2 separate regions of the Homo sapiens genome follow, and region 2 is linked to region 1. The links come from fine-mapping of genetic effects on gene expression. A gene starts in region 1. The other region holds a variant in brackets. All regions are shown on one strand. Distances are between the middles of the regions. Region 1 holds the start of SCO2 (synthesis of cytochrome C oxidase 2). Region 2 holds the start of SYCE3 (synaptonemal complex central element protein 3).

What was found.
Region 2: its variant is fine-mapped to the expression of SCO2 in whole blood (INTERVAL, PIP above 0.99).

What each region holds. Positions count from the first base shown.
Region 1 is chr22:50,520,157-50,529,447 of GRCh38, forward strand. It overlaps SCO2 (synthesis of cytochrome C oxidase 2), which reads right to left and starts at 5,442. Exons shown (of 2, transcript NM_005138.3): 1 at 5,316-5,442; 2 at 3,412-4,268. The coding sequence starts at 4,255. The coding sequence ends at 3,455. It overlaps NCAPH2 (non-SMC condensin II complex subunit H2), which reads left to right. Exons shown (of 20, transcript NM_152299.4): 10 at 809-880; 11 at 1,387-1,453; 12 at 1,585-1,692; 13 at 1,830-1,883; 14 at 2,025-2,095; 15 at 2,187-2,259; 16 at 2,345-2,413; 17 at 2,515-2,564; 18 at 2,665-2,766; 19 at 2,861-3,010; 20 at 3,079-4,624. The coding sequence ends at 3,219. TYMP (thymidine phosphorylase) reads right to left here. Exons shown (of 10, transcript NM_001953.5): 3 at 8,980-9,182; 4 at 8,356-8,454; 5 at 7,432-7,561; 6 at 7,009-7,127; 7 at 6,420-6,582; 8 at 6,090-6,320; 9 at 5,845-5,985; 10 at 5,596-5,762. The coding sequence ends at 5,614. RefSeq lists silencers at 5,114-5,413, 5,624-6,453 and enhancers at 6,544-6,843, 6,652-7,223, 7,014-7,213, 7,234-7,383, 9,104-9,263.
Region 2 is chr22:50,562,814-50,570,844 of GRCh38, forward strand. SYCE3 (synaptonemal complex central element protein 3) reads right to left here and starts at 106. Exons shown (of 3, transcript NM_001123225.3): 1 at 45-106. It overlaps CPT1B (carnitine palmitoyltransferase 1B), which reads right to left. Exons shown (of 20, transcript NM_152246.3): 17 at 7,480-7,593; 18 at 6,763-6,855; 19 at 6,523-6,608; 20 at 6,048-6,268. The coding sequence ends at 6,525. It overlaps CHKB-CPT1B (CHKB-CPT1B readthrough (NMD candidate)), which reads right to left. Exons shown (of 30, transcript NR_027928.2): 27 at 7,480-7,593; 28 at 6,763-6,855; 29 at 6,354-6,608; 30 at 6,048-6,268. It overlaps LOC107985568 (a long non-coding RNA gene), which reads left to right and starts at 148. Exons shown (of 2, transcript XR_001755606.3): 1 at 148-754; 2 at 5,794-6,330. RefSeq lists a silencer at 1-207 and an enhancer at 7,352-7,421. The variant C/T (reference allele first, on the strand shown) is at 3,360.

The sequences.
Region 1 (9,291 bases):
ACCACGCCCGGCCCACTGTTTGTGTTTTAAAGTTTTTCTTAGGGTTTTTGTTTTAATACCCCCAGAGAGTACTAGCAGGGTTTATTTTTATCTTATTTTATTTATTTATTTTTGAGACAGGGTCTTGCTCTGTTGCCCAGGCTAGAGTGCAGTGGCCTGATCTTGGCTCATTGCAGCCTTGACTCTCTCTAGGCTCAGGTGATCCTTCCACCTCAGCCTCCCGAGTAGCTGGGACTACAGGCGTGTACCACCACACCCGGCTAATTTTTGTATTTTTTGTAGAGACGGGGTCTCACTGCATTGCCCAGGCTGGTCTTGAACTCCTGGGCTCAAGTGATCTACCCGCCTTGGCCTCTCAAAGCACTGGGATTATAGGCGTGAGCCACTGTGTCCGGTCCCTGTAGGTTTTTTTTTTTTTTTTGGACGGAGTCTTGTTCTTTTGCCCAGGCTGGAGTGCAGTGGTGTGATATCGGCTCACTGCAACCTCTGCCTCCTGGGTTCAAGCGATTCTCCTGCCTCGGCCTCCCGAGTAGGTGGGATTACAGGTGTGCGCCACCACACCCGGCTAATTTTTTTTGCATTTTTAGTAGAGGCGGGGGTTTCACCATGTTGGCCAGGCTGGTCTCAAACTCTTGACCTCGGGTGATCTGCCCGCCTTGGCCTCCCAAAGTGCTGGGATTACAGGCATGAGCCACCACGCCCGACCCTTGTAGGGTTCTTGATGTTAACCCAAGGTGGAGTTCCTGGGGTACCCAGAGCCTTGAGGGGAGAAAGAGGAGAAGTGGGGACCCTGTGACTGTCTTTGCAGAGTGCTGCCCTGCCCAGGAGGTACATGCTGCGGGAGCGGGAGGGGGCCCCAGAGCCTGCATCCTGCGTGAAGGTAGGAGTGTTGGGGCCCTGACCCCCGGCAGGGAGGGATGGGCGGATTCGAGGACTGGCTGCCTGCCCATCATGCTCTTGCTCCTGCTGGCCTGTGGTGTTCCCAGCCTGTGGCCCTTTGCACTTGCTCTCTTAAAGACCCCCTCATGCGACTCTGGGCTCCCACCCTCTCTCTAGTGTTCCCCTCTGTGATCCAGGATTTGAGTGTGGTCGGCTCTGCCCCAGGCTGTCACTGCACTTGTTGCCTGGGCTTTGGGAAGGCGGCTGTGCACCCCCTACTCCTCTGGGAGGGTGGCTGTGTACCCCCTACTCCTTTGGGAGGGTGGCTGTGAACCCCCTACTCCTCCTTTGGGAGGGTGGCTGTGCACCCCCTACTCCTCCTTTGGGAGCGCGGCTGTGTACCCCCTACTCTTCCTTTGGGAGGGTGGCTGTGCATCCCCTACTCCTTTGGGAGGGACGGCTGTGCACCCCCTACTTCTCCAGCGCCTTCTTGTGCTCTGTGCCCAGGAGACTCCAGACCCCTGGCAGAGCCTGGACCCCTTTGACTCCTTGGAGTCTAAGCCCTTCAAGAAAGGTAATTGGGTGGAAGGTACCTCCACTCAGGTACCCCTGGCTGGGTTTCCTGGGGCATGAGGTGGGGGGGTGGGAGTGGGCTTTGCACCCTGATCCCCCAGCGGCTCTAAGACAGTCCCTGTTTGCCCCCAGGTAGGCCTTACTCTGTGCCCCCCTGTGTGGAGGAGGCTCTGGGACAGAAGCGCAAGAGGAAGGGCGCTGCCAAGCTGCAGGACTTCCACCAGTGGTACCTGGCTGCCTGTGAGTGGGTGTGGTGTGCACTCCGGACCACTGGGAGCTGGGGGCTGGGCCAGGGCCAGTGGAGGAGGATCAGCACCCTTTTCCCAATGCTGTGGGCAGCTCTTGGCCTGGCTGGTGCTGAGCATGTTCTTTCACAGATGCAGACCATGCCGACAGCAGGCGGCTTCGGCGAAAGGGTCCGTCCTTTGCAGGTGAGGCTGAAGTCCTCGGGGAAGACAGTTTTACTCTCCTTCCCCTACCTCTTCCCCCACCTGGTGTCACCCAAAGCCTTGGGTGGACTGGCACGGGGCCTGGGAAGGACGAGGGAGCCCTCACAAGGCCTTTGTCTGCAGACATGGAGGTCCTGTACTGGACACACGTGAAGGAGCAGTTGGAAACTCTCCGGAAGCTGCAGAGGAGGGAGGCAAGTCCCAGCTGGTCAGCTGTGATCTAGGACCCCGTGGTGGCCCTGATGGGAGGTGACAGTGCCCCTCACAGATGCTTTCTCTGGACAGGTGGCTGAGCAGTGGCTGCGGCCTGCAGAGGAGGACCACCTGGAGGATTCCCTGGAAGACCTGGGGGCAGCAGGTGGGTGCCTGCCAGGGGGTGGGGTGGGGCTTGGCACCTGCCGACTAGCTGCCTGCGTGCTGTTCACTCTCCCACCTCCCAGCAGATGACTTTCTAGAGCCTGAGGAGTACATGGAGCCCGAGGGAGCAGACCCCAGGGAAGCCGCTGACCTTGGTAGGTGGGCAGCGGGCTAGGAGTGCTGAGGGGCCACTGGAGCTGGGGGCAGGGGAGAGCGTGGCCCCTTAGCTGCCCAGCTCACAGCTACCCCTTCCCAGACGCAGTGCCGATGTCCCTGAGCTACGAGGAGCTGGTTCGAAGGAATGTGGTAGGCCTGGGTTAGAGGGAGACGGGGAGGGGAGGGGGACAGGTGAGCGGTGCCCAGGCCCCTGCTTGGGAGGCAGTAGCTCCTGCTGATCCTCCCCTAGGAGCTCTTCATCGCCACCTCCCAGAAGTTTGTCCAGGAGACAGAGCTGAGCCAGCGCATCAGGGACTGGGAGGACACAGTGCAGCCTCTGCTCCAGGAGCAGGTGAGGCGGGGCCGCTGGGAACCAGAGCTGTGTGCCACGGGTCTGTCCAGGGCCTTGCCTCTCTCCGCAGCCAACATGCCCCTCCCCTGTGCAGGAGCAGCATGTGCCCTTTGACATCCACACCTATGGGGACCAGCTGGTCTCACGGTTCCCCCAGCTCAATGAGTGGTGTCCCTTTGCGGAGCTGGTGGCTGGCCAGCCGGCCTTCGAGGTGTGTCGTTCCATGCTGGCCTCCCTGCAGCTGGTGAGTAGCCTGGGATACGTGGGAGGGGGAGACGGTCCCCAGACCCTGCTGATGTGCCACCCCTGCAGGCCAATGACTACACAGTGGAGATAACCCAGCAGCCCGGGCTGGAGATGGCCGTGGACACCATGTCCCTGAGACTGCTCACGCACCAGCGAGCGCACAAGCGCTTCCAGACCTACGCTGCCCCCTCCATGGCCCAGCCCTGAGTGGGGAGCACCGAGGCAGGGGTGGGGGAATGTGTACTGAGGAGCCGTGTGTCTGCTCCTGGCTGGCCCGGCCTAATAAAGCAGTGTTGCCATCTCATCTTCCCCCTAAAAACCCTTTTATGTACACCTGCGCAGAGAAGAGGGCTGCCTGGCCTCCCTGGGCCGCTGGTACAGATCACACACACACACAGATTAAACGCAGCCCGTTTAATGATGGGGCCCAGACTGCAGTGGCTCAAGACAGGACACTGCGGAAAGCCGCCATGTGCCGCCGCACACTGTCTGAGATCTGCTCAGCCGATCTGCTCCGGCCGTAGTAATCCGTGAAGAGGCCGTCAGGGTTGAGCAGGTAGATGGCAATGGAGTGGTCCACGATGTAGTCCTGGTCCTCATCCTTGGGGCCTGCATTGTAGTACACGCGGTAACTGTGACTAGCCTGGGCAACCTGTTTGGTGGAGCCGGTCAGACCCAACAGTCTTGGGTGGAAGTCCTGGACGTAGCGGGCCATGGCTTCAACGTCGTCCCGCTCGGGGTCCACAGTGATGAAGACAGGCTGCACTGGAGGCAAACCAGGCTCTGCTTCCAGCTGCCGCACCACCTGCACCAGCTTCTCCAGCTCGTCTGGGCAGATGTCAGGGCAGTGAGTGAAGCCAAAGTACATCAGCACCCACTGGCCCCGGAAGTCAGCCTTGCAGCGAGCCCGGCCTCTGTGATCCAGCAGGTGGAAGTCGCCCTGGCCCACAGCTGCCTGGCGCAGGGCTTCTGTTCGCTTTTGCTGCTGCAGCCTCTCCTTCTCAGCCCTCAGGGCCAGCCAGGCCCCACCGAGTCCAGCCCCGAACAGGCCTGTGATCAGCAGCCGGGTTCGAAGCCCAGGGCCCTGGGGCTGGCCCTGCCCACCTGTCTCTGCAGGGCCCTGCCTTGACAAAAGCCAGGACCTCAGATGCAGGGCCTGGCCTCCCAGGGTCCCAGGGAGGACCCGAGGCTTGAGCTGAGAGAGCCTGTGCCAAGCTGTGGGGCTCCGAGTCAGCAGCAGCATGGATCTGATGCTCCTGGAAACAAGCACAGGCGTCAGGAGCCAGAAGGGAAGGCCCAGGACAGTGCCTGGGCTGCCCCTGCGACTTGAGACCAGCCACCCATCTGAAGGACCCAGCCCACGTTCAGGCTTAACAGGCATTTGCAGCTGCTCACCTGAGCTCAGAACTCCACCTCCACCAAACATCCACACCTGGGCAACCACACCTGTCACTCCTGTCCTCTACCTGGGATCACCAGCCTGTCACCGCACCCTGCCCTGCACCTGCACCTCAGCAAGGTGAACCTCTTGCTGACGGAAAGCATTCCAAGTGCATGCCTTGCCTGAACTAACCACGTTATCTATTTGCAATAAACCCATTTCTTAAAAGGAGGTGGGTAACTCTCTGGCTTGCAATCCCCGAGAGCAACCGATTCCTCCAACACTTTCCTGTTACCTCCAGCCACTTCAACCAACCGCGGCCTTCCTCCACACTCCCAGCAGAAAACCTGCACGACCTACCCCCGGAGCTCAGACTCTGCCCGCCGGCTGTGTTTAACCTCTCCTGGCAGAGACGCACGACACTTCCACCCGCCACAAAACCCCACCCTCCTCACATCCAGGCTTCCCAGCAGCTCCTCCGGGCTCACAGCCGACGCCCTGCCTTTGCGTTGGTGACCTTTGAGCCTTTCCCACGGGCCCCCGCAGAAGGTTTGCTAGGTGGAGGTCTCAGGACTCCCGGTCACTGCCCCCTCCTGCTGAGGGCACCCTCCCGAGGACTCACTGCACCCCCGCCCGGGCGGTTCTGGGTTTGTGCCCTCCCCAGCAAGGCCAGCGCCCTCGTGGCCAGAAAGGTTCCAGGACCACTCGAAGCGCCGCGCGAGCGCGTTATAACTGTGCTTGGCCGCGAGAACACCGGTGCCTGCTGGGAGCCTCCCACGGGCGCCCCAGCCTCGCTCCGGCCTCCAGCGCGCCCTGGGGTGTGCCCCGCCAGCCCCGCGCAGTAGCCGGAGCTGGGAAACTACCCCGGAGTCCAGCGAGTCCTCAGGGCTACCTCCTCCCCTCCCAGCCCCGGCGTCCGCACCTCGCGGCGGGGCCGCGCGTCAGTGGACCAAGCACGAGAGGAAGCGCCGACCTCCAGCTCCCTGCGCTCTGCCCCGCCGGCTCAGGGAAAGCGGGCGCCACACGCTCACAGGCAGGGCGCAGGCGTCCCCGGAGCTGCGCATGCGCACACGGGCGCAGCCGCTGACAGGCTCTCAGCGCGTGCGCGGAAGGCGGAGCCCGCCGGGGGTCACGTGTTCATCGAGACGGCCCCCGCCTCCGCAGCCCTGGATCCTTCCGCTCCCGCCCAAGCACTGACAAGGTTTCGCGGCAAAGGAGCTTTATTGCTGCGGCGGCAGAACGAGCTCTGCGAAGGGCGAGGGGGCGGCGAATGGCGCGCGGTCGGAGAGTACGAGCGCCTCCTGCAGGGCGCGGCTCTGCGGGCCGCTGAGCGCGGGGCCGTCCCGGTGCACGCGGAGCCAGGGGGTCCCTGCAGAGCGAGGGGCTGTTAGAGGCCGCGCGGCCGGAGCTGGGCGGGGGTGCGGGGCCAGCAGGGCGGGGGCGGCGCTCACCACGGCGCAGCCTCTGACCCACGTCGACCAGCAGCTCTGCGCCCACCCCCAGGCGGAGCGGCTCCCCAGCGCGGCTGCGCCCGGCCCCGAGCTCGTGCAGCACCAGCGCCAGCGGCAGCGCCCGGACCAGCTCCACGGTGCCTGCGGGGAGAGGGGCTGAGAGGCGCGGGCTCGGGAAGGGGCGGGGCCTCGGGAAGGGAAGGGGATGGCGGAGGCGGAAGGACGGGGACTCCCCCGACGCTCACCATCTGCGGGCGCCAGCAGCTCCTCCTGCTCCCGGGCGCGAGGCAGCAGCTGCCGGCGTTCTGCGGGACTTCCCGAGCACAGGGCTCGGGCCAGACCGGGATCCACGCCCTGCGCCGCCAGCATCCGCTCGAAGCGGCCAAGGGCCGAGCCGTCGTCCAGCGCCGCGGCCACCCGGGCAGCGCCCTGGGCCTGAGTCCCCGCGTGTCCGCTGAGCCAGAGCAGGGCGCCCCCTGCGGGCGGGGACGGGTCTTAGGCGCGGCCGGGTCGGGGCGGCCCCAGCGGGAAGCACCCCCCGCCGCCTCCGCTCCCCTACACCCCGTCCCCCTCACCGAGCGTGGTGACCAGGTCCCTTAAGTCTGGCGGGCCTGCGCCGTCCATGCAGAGCAGCGCCTCCTCCACCTCCAGGGCGTGGCCCACGCAGCGACCCAGGGGCTTGTCCATGGCGGTCAGCGCTGCCGCGACCCGAAGCCCTAGGCTGGCTCCCACGCCAACCTGCGGAGAGGAGGCTCAGCGTGGACCCCCCATGGCGGGGCCTTCTGCAGCCGGTTCTTGGTCGAACTCCAGCCCCTGCTGCACCCTGGGTTGCCAGCCCCCCAGCATGAAGTCAGGGAAGGATTGGGGTGGGGAAGAGACACGAGTGAAGTGCGACACCTCGCCATGGGGCCAGGAGGAACTTGTACTTGGTCTGGGGCAGGAACGCCACAGAGGGCTTCCCCAGGTCCAGGCCGGGCCAGCCTTGACCTCTAAAGTCACAGCAGGTTAGGAAGCCGTGAAGGAGGGAGGGACTTCGGGCAGAAGAGGGTGGGACTGGGGTTAGGCAGGACTGCTGAGTGGAGGGAGGCAGTGGGGACGGGAGGGGTGAAGGGTAGGCTGGGCCCGCATCAAGACGCTTGCCCAGGGAAAGGCCACACCGCTCACCAGCGTCTTTGCCAGCTCCCGGGCCTGCTCCTGGTTGGGGAAGACGGCGGCCCCTCCGAACTTAACGTCCACCACCAGAGCGGACAGCCCCTCCACGAGTTTCTTACTGAGAATGGAGGCTTTGGGGGAGGCAGAGGAGGTTGGAGACAATGGAGAACCTGGAGCTTCTTGGGAGAGTTCGGGGATGCCGACTTTGGGGTCAGGGGCCCTGAGCATTGAGGGTCAAGTCCCTTATTATGGGGGTGGCAGCACCTGGTGGGTTGAGTATCAGGCCACCCCACATGGTGGTGGTCAGGCATCTTGTGATGGGGGTAGGGGGGCACACGGTCAGGTGACGGGTAACTCCTAACGAGAGGCCCTTGACTTGAGTTTGGAGGTCAGGAGCCTGTGAACATGCAGAAGCAGGCCATGGAGTCAGGTCACCTGTGATGAGTGGCAGGCTGTCCACGGTGGCTGTCACATCTCTGGCTGCATATAGGATTCCGTCCGCAGGAACCAGCTGCTCACTCTGACCCACGATACAGCAGCCCGCCTGGTCCAGCAGCACTTGCATCTGGTCAGACATCCCCTGTTCTCAGTGACTTATGGTAAATGACTTAGCAGCTTTTTTTTTTTTTTTTTTTTTTTCTGTGAAGAGTCTTCCTCTGTTGCCCAGGCTGGAGTGCAGTTGGCACAATTTCGGCTCATTGTGACCTCTGCCTCCTGGGCTTAAGTGATCCTCCCACCTCAGCTTCCCAGTAGCTGGGACTACAGGTGCGCACCACCACACGCGGCTTTTTTTTTTCTTCTTTTTTTTGTAGAGATCAAGTTTCACTATATTACCCAGGCTGATCTCCAACTGGGCTCCTCTGCCTCCCAGAGTGCTGGGACAGGGTCTCACTCTGTTGCCCAGGCTGGAGTGCAGTGGCATCGTCCCGGCTCACTGCAGCCTAGACCTCCCAGGCTCAAGTGATCCTCCTGCCTCAGCCTCCTGAGTAGCTGGAACCACATGCGTGCACCACCACACGCAGCGAACTATTTTGTAGAGATGGGGTTTTGCCGTGTTATCCAGGCTGGTTTTGAACTCCTGGGTTCAAGGGATCTGCCCTCTTCGGCCTCCCCAAGTGCTAGGACTACAGGTGTGAGCCACCGTGCCCCGCCAGCCATCTGTGATTTTGACCAACTTCCCATTTTATGATCCTAATCAAAGTTCCACTGATGATTTCGGCCCAGGCCCAGTGACTCATGAGTAACCTTGACCAGTGTTCTCATTAGTGACCCTAATGATCCACCAGTGATCTTTTAGTGATTCTGGCCAGGGTCTCCATCATCAACCTGGATTAATGACTGATCCGTGGCGCCCCGTACCTGCTCTGGGCTCTGGATGACATTGAATCCAGGAATAGACTCCAGCTTATCCAAGGTGCCTCCTGTGTGCCCCAGACCACGTCCGCTGATCATTGGCACCTGGTGGTCAGGGATGCTGAGTACCCTGCACAGTACCCCTCCCCCACCTCTGTGCATCCCTTCACCTTCCCTGGCTAGGAGTGCAGCTGGATTTGGAAAGTATTTAAGCAGCTATAGGGGTGCCCAGCTGGTGAGGGAATGGAAAGGAAGTTTTCTTGGTTGAGAAGTGTCAGTAGGGGAGGAGGTTGGTACCTGTCCTTGGGGAAACAAGGCTTGGGGCAGAGGGAGGAAAGTCCTCAGCTCCTCCCTTGGGGGAGCTGTCTGGGGACCCAAGGGGAAAGGGGTCTGAATTCCATCAGTGGATCTTTTTCCTGCTCCAAGGGGCCTGGTCTGGAGCCAGAGGGGCCCCAAGCGCTGTGCTGGGGAACGGGGTGGGGAGAACTGTGCTGGGGAGCAGGGTGGGGAGAAGCCTTGGTAGGGTCTTGGAGGCTTTGGGCCAGGCTTGAGGTTGGGAGCTGCCTGTGGATGGACTGGTTGCTGCATGTGCGGTATAGGCTCCCGTCTGGAAAGGAGGTGGTTTCTAACCTTGCAGCCACATGCCGCCAGGGCAGGTGCGAGGACCAGGCTGACCTTGTCACCCACACCCCCTGTGGAATGCTTGTCCACAAGCTGCTGGCGCCAGGCCTCTGGCCACTCCAGCTGCTGTCCCGACTGAGCCAGGGCCTGGGTCAGCACCGAGGTCTCCTCCAGATCCATGCCCCGAAGTCGGATGGCCATCAGCATGGCCCCTGGTATGTGGGGGTACGCGTGAGGGTGGCAGCCCACAGCGGTGGGGCACCCTGGGGCCGGTGCTGGTAGTGGGGCACCGTCGCACCCCCAGGGACCCAAAGTCTCTCG
Region 2 (8,031 bases), 42 kb after region 1:
CGCGTTGGGAGGGCCGGGGCCCAGGGGGGCGCGGCCTCGCTCACCTCCAGCTTGGCCCGCGCTCCGGTCCTGCTCTGGCGCCCCCAGCGGCCGCTTGAGGAACAAGGCCGCTCCTCGAGAGGGATGCCCCGCCCTTTCCGTTAGCGAACCCTCCCCGGAAGTGACCTCTCGCCCTCATTGGGTGTCCTCGGGAAAAGGGGCGGGGCATTCCGCGCTGCTCCCACAGGTCTGCGGCGTCCGAGTCTGGGACTGGCAGGTGCGGTGCTGGGGACGTCCTGAGGTTGAGGGAGAATCCTGCGGAGATGAAGAGCTTCCCGGCCTGACAGTTTTGCCCCCACCTCCTTCTTGAGCTTAAGGATTTATACGCAGGGCCCCGTTTGCCTGCTGTGTCCCCAGTGTCCAGGACAGCGCCCGGTACCAAAGGTGCTGGTAAACATTTGTCGAATGAGTCGCTGAACGCCCAGCTATTTCCACTGTCACAGCGATCATGTGTGGCGGACATTATGTGGCATGTATCTTACAGAGGAGGCAGCCCGGGCTCAGGGAGACGAGGCAGAGGTGCACGCAGGTCTATGTGGGCTGGAAAGTGCTGGGGCCTCCCGGGCGCTCCTGGTCTCCAGGCAAGAACTGGAAGCAGAGCCACTCAACACCTAGAAGGGCAGTGACAGAAAGCTCTGGCTGGGAGGAGGCTGACCAGAGGCCAGTCTGAGCTCAGCCTTTTTTTTCAGAGGGACGTGGGCACCCTAGAAGGGTGGTAAGTAGGCGAGTGGCAGAGTTAAAAGGTCTCTGGCTGCCGAGGCGGGTGGCGACGGGGCCGGCCGTTGCTGTTGTTTGGCTGAGTGGTGGACAGGGTCAAAGCCATTCCAAGGTCGACTTGACAGGGCTTGGTAATGTGGGAGGGAGGGAGAAAGAAGCAAGGGGCTAATGGCCGGGGTGATACCACTGGCAGAGATGTGGAAGAGTGGGAGAAGCTAGCTTGGAAGGTTAACTTTGATTTTGAACACCTTGTGTTTGAGAATCCTGACAAACCTTAGACCCCCTGAATTTTCTCTCAGGGATTCTGATTCTTAGCAGCCTGATTGCAGAGGAGGAAAAATGGCTGGGGTTGAGCCAGACAGTTCTGGGCAAGGAGTGAGCATTCGCTTGTTTATTGAGGAGGCTGCTGCCTGGGCCACACTCCCTCCGCCAGCTGCCAGGTTCCTGCCCCGGTTGAACCCGGTTTTCTGGCCATCCCTTTCCACCTGTGAGCTGCTCTTCATACTTCCATTTGCTTATACAGCCCAGAGCCGATTTCTGTTACAGCAGCCCAGAGAAACATGAATAGGGAATAATTCTTTTTTTTTTTTTTTGAGACGGAGTCTTGCTCTGTTGCCCAGGCTGGAGTGCAGTGGCACGATCTCGGCTCACTGCAACCTCCGCCTCCCAGGTTCAAGTGATTCTCCTGCCTCAGCCTCCCTAGTAGCTGGGATTACAAGCACATGCCACAACGCCCAGCTAGTTTTTGTATTTTTAGTAGAGACCGGGTTTCGCTATGTTGGCCAGGCTGGTCTCGAACTCCTGTCCTCAGGTGATCCACCCGCCTCGGACTCCCAAAGTGCTGGGATTACAGGTGTGAGCCACTGTGCTTGGCCCGAATCAGGAATAATTCTGATGGCTAAGGAAGACAGCTTCCGAGAGAGTAGGAGAAAGGGCACAGGATTCCAGGCAGAAGGCCCATCTAGGGCAAAGGCGAAGGTGTGGCTCAGCCTGCCTCCTTTGGGGAATGGCGAGTGTGTTCTGGGCTCAGGGTTCTTGGTAAGGGACAGAGAAGACTCGGGAAAGATCAGTTGAGCTGGAATGTGCAGGCTCTTGAGTACCCTGCTCAGGAGCTGGAGGTGGGCTACCCTGCAAACTCCAGGCCATGAAGCCCAGGAAGATGTCAGGCTGGTCTTCCCATGCCCTTGTGTATCTGAGACCAACTGTCACTAAATGTTTCCTTTACGCCCTGGACACACAGCTAGACTCTACTTCTCAGATTCTCTTGAAATACAAGTCTTTAGCCAGAGGGTGTGGAGGGAAATGCTGTGTATCACTTTGAGGTTGAGGCCATCAAAGCCTCCCACAGGTGGCCCCCTCTTTCTCTCCCCACGTACTTATGATGTTGATGCCCAAGGCAGCTTGAGTACTACCTGCTGAAGGCAGGGCCTCTGTCACCATAGATCCTTGAATAACAGTATGGAGCAGAGCCCTCATCTCAGCCAACTGGATTTTATCTGACCAACAGTCCAGCTTCTATTGGGTTGAGCCATGAGGTTTCAGGATTTATGTTATGGCTGCTAGCTTTTATTAATGCAGACCTGCAGACCTATGGGACATGGGGAACTAATTGGGGTTTGGGTTGTCATCAGAGGTTTATTTATTTTTTTAAGACAGGGTGTTGCTCTGTCACCTAGGCTGGAATGCAGTGGGTCAATCATGGCTCACTGCAGCCTCAATCTCTCAGGCTCAAGTAATCCTCCCAACTCAGCCTCCAGAGTAGCTGGGGCCACAGGCAAGTGCCACCACGCCTGGCTAATTTTTTTTTTTTAATTTTGTAGAGATGGGGTCTCACTGCACCACCCAGGCTGGTCTCGAACTCCTGGGCTCAAGACCTCCCAAAGCACAGGCATTACAGGCGTGAGCTACCATGCCCAGCAGTCTCCAGAGGTTTATACCCTGGTTTACCACTGTTGTTCCTCATCTCACTATTTTAACCCAGAACAAATGAGATAAAAGAACTTTAATGCTGAATTTTGATGTTAATTGAAAGCTAGCTTGTTGGAAACTCTGTTTACTGCTATCTCAGGACGGGGTGAGCTGATGTCCCCAGAAGACTACCAAAACGCAGGCACCTTCCCAGGGGAGGCTTACTGGCACCCAAACAGGTAGAGGTCTCTGGAAATACTTTTGGAAGCTGAAGAACGCTCTGATATGGAATGTAACATTTTGCAGGCAGAGGTGTACTCTTTTTTTTTTTTTTTTTTTGAGACAGAGTCTCGGTCTCCCAGGCTGGAGTACAGTGGCACCATCTTAGCTCACTGCAACCTCCATCTCCTGGGTTCAAGCGATTCTCCTGCCTCAGCCTCCTGAGTAGCTGGGACTACAGGCACGTGCCACCACACCCGGCTAATTTTTGTATTTTTAGTAGAGGCAGGGTTTTGCTGTATTAGCCAGGATGGTCTCGATCTCCTGACCTCGTGATCTGCCCGCCTCGGCCTCCCAAAGTGCTGGGATTACAGGTGTGAGCCACCGCGCCCGGCCCCAAGAGGCATACTCTTATAGCTCATGAAGACTTGAAGGAGGTGAGGAGCCTCTGCCCTGGGAATCCTCTCATGCACTTT[C/T]AAGGTTTTAACTGTCTTCAAAACTGTTAGAAGGAGCCTAGATCTCTCCTTAGCTTTTCATTTATATTTTCAAGAGTCTGAGACATTTTCACAGCTATTTCTTATAGGCAAGTCAAATTCAACATTTAAAGACCTAATTTAATCACCCAATCACCCAATATAGAAAATATGAGTTATCTTTGATTCCTCCTGATTAGACTTGTCAGTCCTACGTTTGACATTCCAAGCTCCTTAATTCTACTTTCCTATGGCACTGCCTTAGTTTAAGCCGCTCATTTCTTCCAGCTCCACCACCACCAGGAGCACTTCTCCAGCGGGTCTCCTTGCTTCCACTGTTACTGCGTCCTACTTTGTTCTAACGCCACCCTGGTTAGCCAGTGATCCCTTAAAATTAGGACAGATTATGCCACCCTCTGTTCAAAGCCCAACAGCTTCCCCCGTCATTCAGAAAATCCAGAATCTGGCCTACGAGGCCCTTGTTACCCCGATCTAGCTGCCCCGCTTGCTCTTCCCATCCCTGACTCCACACTAGCCACATCCTTCATCACAGCAGACACCGCTCGCAAAGCTTTGGCTCTTGCTGTTCCTTCAGCCAGGAATACTCTGCCCTTAGGTACGGAACATGAGGGACATGAGGGACATGACTTGCTCCTCGTCTCCTTCAGGCCTGTGGTCAAAGGACCCCAATCAGGAAGGCTTGCTTTTGCCACTGTCTGAAATTGCCACCCACCTCTCCTTTTGTCTCTCCACTTACTTTTCCTCTTTTTTTTTTTTTGAGACGGAGTCTTGCTCTGTCGCCCAGGCTGGAGTGCAGTGGCGCGATCTTGGCTCACTGCAAGCTCCACCTCCCAGGTTCACGCCATTCTCCTGCCTCAGCCTCTCCCAGTAGCTGGGACTACAAGCACCCACCACCACACCTGGCTAATTTTTTGTATTTTTAGTAGAGACAGGGTTTCACCGTGGTCTTGATCTCCTGACCTTGTGATCCACCTGCCTTGGCCTCCCAAAGTGCTGAGATTACAAGCGTGAGCCACTGCGCCCAGCCCATGGTGTCTTATAAGTGTCTTATATAAGGGTACCATTTTTTTTTTTTTTGAGACGGAGTCTCGCTCTGTTGCCCAGGCTGGAGTGCAGTGGTGCCATCTTGGCTCAGTGCAAGCTCCGCCTCCTGGGTTCACGCCATCCTCCTGCCTCAGCCTCCCAAGCAGCTAGGACTACGGGCGCCCGCCACCATGCCTGGCTAGTTTTTGTATTTTGTTTAGTAGAGACACTGTTTCACCGTGTTAGCCAGGATGGTCTCGATCTTCTGACCTCGTGATCCACCTGCCTCGGCCTCCCAAGGTGCTGGGATCACAGGCGTGAGCCACTGCACCTGGCCATAAGGGTGCCATTTTTAATCTTTTATATAACATTTTTACTATACCTTTTCTATGTTTAGACAAGTTTAGATACACAAAGACTTCCCATTGTATTACAGTTGCCTACAGTATTCAGTATGGTAACATGTTGTAAAGGCATGCGGCCTAGGAGCAACAGGGTAAGCAGCATAGCCCAGGTCTGTAGTAGGCTGCACCATCTACCTTTGTGTAAATGCACTCTAGAATCTTTGCACAACAAAATCGCCTAACAATGCACTTCTCAGAATGTATCCCCTTCATTAAGCAACCCATGCCTGTACTTGGTAAGTGGATTATCCCAAAAGCCTCCTGGTTTCCTGCCAGCTGCTCTGTCCCCTGACCACACCTGCCTCACCCAGCAGTGAATTCGACATGGGCAGGAATAGGACCTTGTTTACCACTGAATCCCCAGCACAGGGCCAAGTCTATGGTGGGTGTTCAACAGACACTGGTTCCTGGCCGGGCACGGTGGCTCACGCCTGAAATCCTAGCACTTTGGAAAGTCGAGGTGGGAGGATCACTTAAGCTCAGGAGTTCGAGACCAGCCTGGGCAACATAGTGAGACCCTATCTCATGGGAAAAAAAAGAAAAAAACAAAAACAGATGAAGACACTGGTTCCTAAATGAAGGTCCAGAACTGAATCTAATTCACTTCAATTACAGTAATTGAGGGCCTACTTATACTTTTCATAAAAATTATTTTTTATGGCTGGGTGCGGTGGCTCACACCTATAATCCCTGCACGTTGGGAGGCTGAGGCAGGTGGATCACCTGAGGTCAGGAATTCGAGACCAGCCTGGCCAACATGGTAAAACCCTGCCTCTACTAAAAATACAAAAAATTAGCCGGGCGTGATGGCGGGCGCCTGTTGTCCCAGCTACTCAGGAGCTGAGGTACGAGAATCGCTTGAACCCAGGAGGCAGAGGTTGTAGTGAGTCGAGATCGTGCCACTGCACTCCAGCCTGGGCAACAAGAGCGAAACTCCGCCTTAAAAACAAAGAATAATTATTTTGTATTTACTCTTAACATGATTTTAGCAGCCGAGCCAACCTCAGTGAAGGAGTGTCTGTTGCTACAGGTCATCCTGCGTGCCCTCTTGCAGACATGACCACCTGGCGCCTCAAGACTTCAGGCCTGGGCCTGCAGCCCCTTTCCATGCTGACAAGAAGCTGCGGGGCCCGTGCAGGGTTGTGCCTCAGCCAAGAGGGGTGCCTCACACATGCCCCTGCATGGGAGGAGGTGGGCTCACTCTCCAGCAGACAGACAAACAGAAATGGCCCCAGGGAACAGGTGAAGGTTCTGAGGCAAGTATTTATTCCAAGCAAACACGTGGGCGTGGACAGCTATCTCAGAGCCTACGTCACTCAGCAGAGTCACACATTTCAAAGCAGGTCACACAAGTCCCTCATGAACAGTCTTCCAGCTTCAGCCCTTCTCTTGCCACCTCTGTGGTCTGAGCTGGGGGAGGGGGAGGGCCTCCGAGTTCCCAAACAAAACACAGGTACCTAAGGGCTGAGAGAAAATTACACAGCCTTATTTTTATTAGTATCTATCAAGAAAAAAAAAAATCAAAATTCCCTTCCTGCTCCAACCCCACCTCCACCACCTGGGCCCTCAGGGAGCAGCATCTGCCCAGCGAGGACCTGCTGCCGGAGCTGTCCTTGGAGCCTGGGCACCTGTGCACGGCCACCCCTCATGCCTGTGAGCTGCCACAGGTCCCTTCCTCCACAGTGTGGGGACGAAAGGGCAGCTGGCATTTCTCCAACCTTCAGCTGTAGGCCTTGGGAACTTGGAAAAGATCAGCAATGTCCAGCAGGGCTTTGCGGATGTGGTTTCCAAAGCGCTGGGCGTTCTGTGGGAGCCAAGAGTTCAGATGCACCTTCAGATATGTACCCACCCCTCTGTTCCCACAAGCAAGGATGCCTCCCCAGCCAAAGACACCTGTGTTCCTGGGCAGCCCCAGGTGGCACCCCTTCCTCAGGCCTGAGCTGTGGCAGGAGACTCACCGTCTCTGAGCTTGAGAACTTGCTGGAGATGTGGAAGAAGATCGTGTTCTCGCCTGCAATCATGTAGGAAACTCCATAGCCATCATCTGCTACCTGAGGGCAACAAGAAGGGTGAAGAAGGCATAAATCAAACCTTGAAGATCTGAAAGCCAAGCTGATATTGTACTTGTTCTTCCCACAAGAGTTGCAGGAACGGGCCCCAGCCCTAGACACTGCATTTTTCCTGAGGACCACCCCCAGGAAACTGTGAAAACCAAAGAATGCTGCCCAGACCCCGCCAAGGGATCTGGGACCTCCCAGTTTCCCTCAGGGGGCTTATTCTCTAGATCACTCCGTCTCTCTCCAGAGGGTTCTCTAGCCTTCTGACAAGCTAGCCCATGTGAAGGTTTCTGTGGGAGACAGCTGCACTCTCTTGGATAAGTAGACTTCAGAAGCACCCAGTGCACTGCCCAGTACCCTGGAAACCAGCCCCACAGTCATGCTTCAGTACCCCGGAAACCACGGTCATGCTTCAGCAGGGAGGTATTTGGGATGGGTGGGTCCCAGGTGCTTGGCTGCCTGAGTCCATAGCTAACATTCTGCTTCCATGCAGGTCTGGGGTTATGCTCTCCTCTAAGCAAGGTGCTCCTGCCTCTCGTCTGACCTCAGGGCCTGCACTCGCCACTGAAACCCTCAGGGCCCTGGTGCTGCCCACCCACCCCCTTCAGGAGCACTCACAGGGCCAAAGCCACCTCCAGCGCCCAGGTGATTGGGGTGCTGCTCTGGGTCGAACATGCGGATCTGGGATTGGGGGATCTGGCTGGTGGAGAGACGCCAGGGTTCCGAGAGCACCTGCAATGGAGGCCACAGCTGGTCAGAGGCCACATACCCAAAGCACCTGTCCAACACGTGGTGTCTGCGACCTACTCTGAGCCAGACACGGTTCTGCTGAGGGTGCAGGAGCTCCCTGGCCACCACCCCGTGGTCCCCTGTGCATCATGCCACATAAGGCTTGTGTGAGCTGCCCAGCCCTCCCTCTGCTCTGCCTCTCCCCCACATAGCCTCACTAGTCTCAGTAGTGCTGTCACCACCTGACAGATCATATATTTGTCTGTTCCCTGTCACAAGGACACCAACACCACAAAGAGGATGTTGCTCCTGCTCAGTCCCAGGACCACAGGCCCAGGTGGGGTGTGGGCGGGAAAGCTGGCCCAGCACTCCAGGGAGCTTCAGGGGAGCAAGCCAGGAAAACAGGCCGTGCTCCATCATGAGATGGCCCAAGCCCTGCGT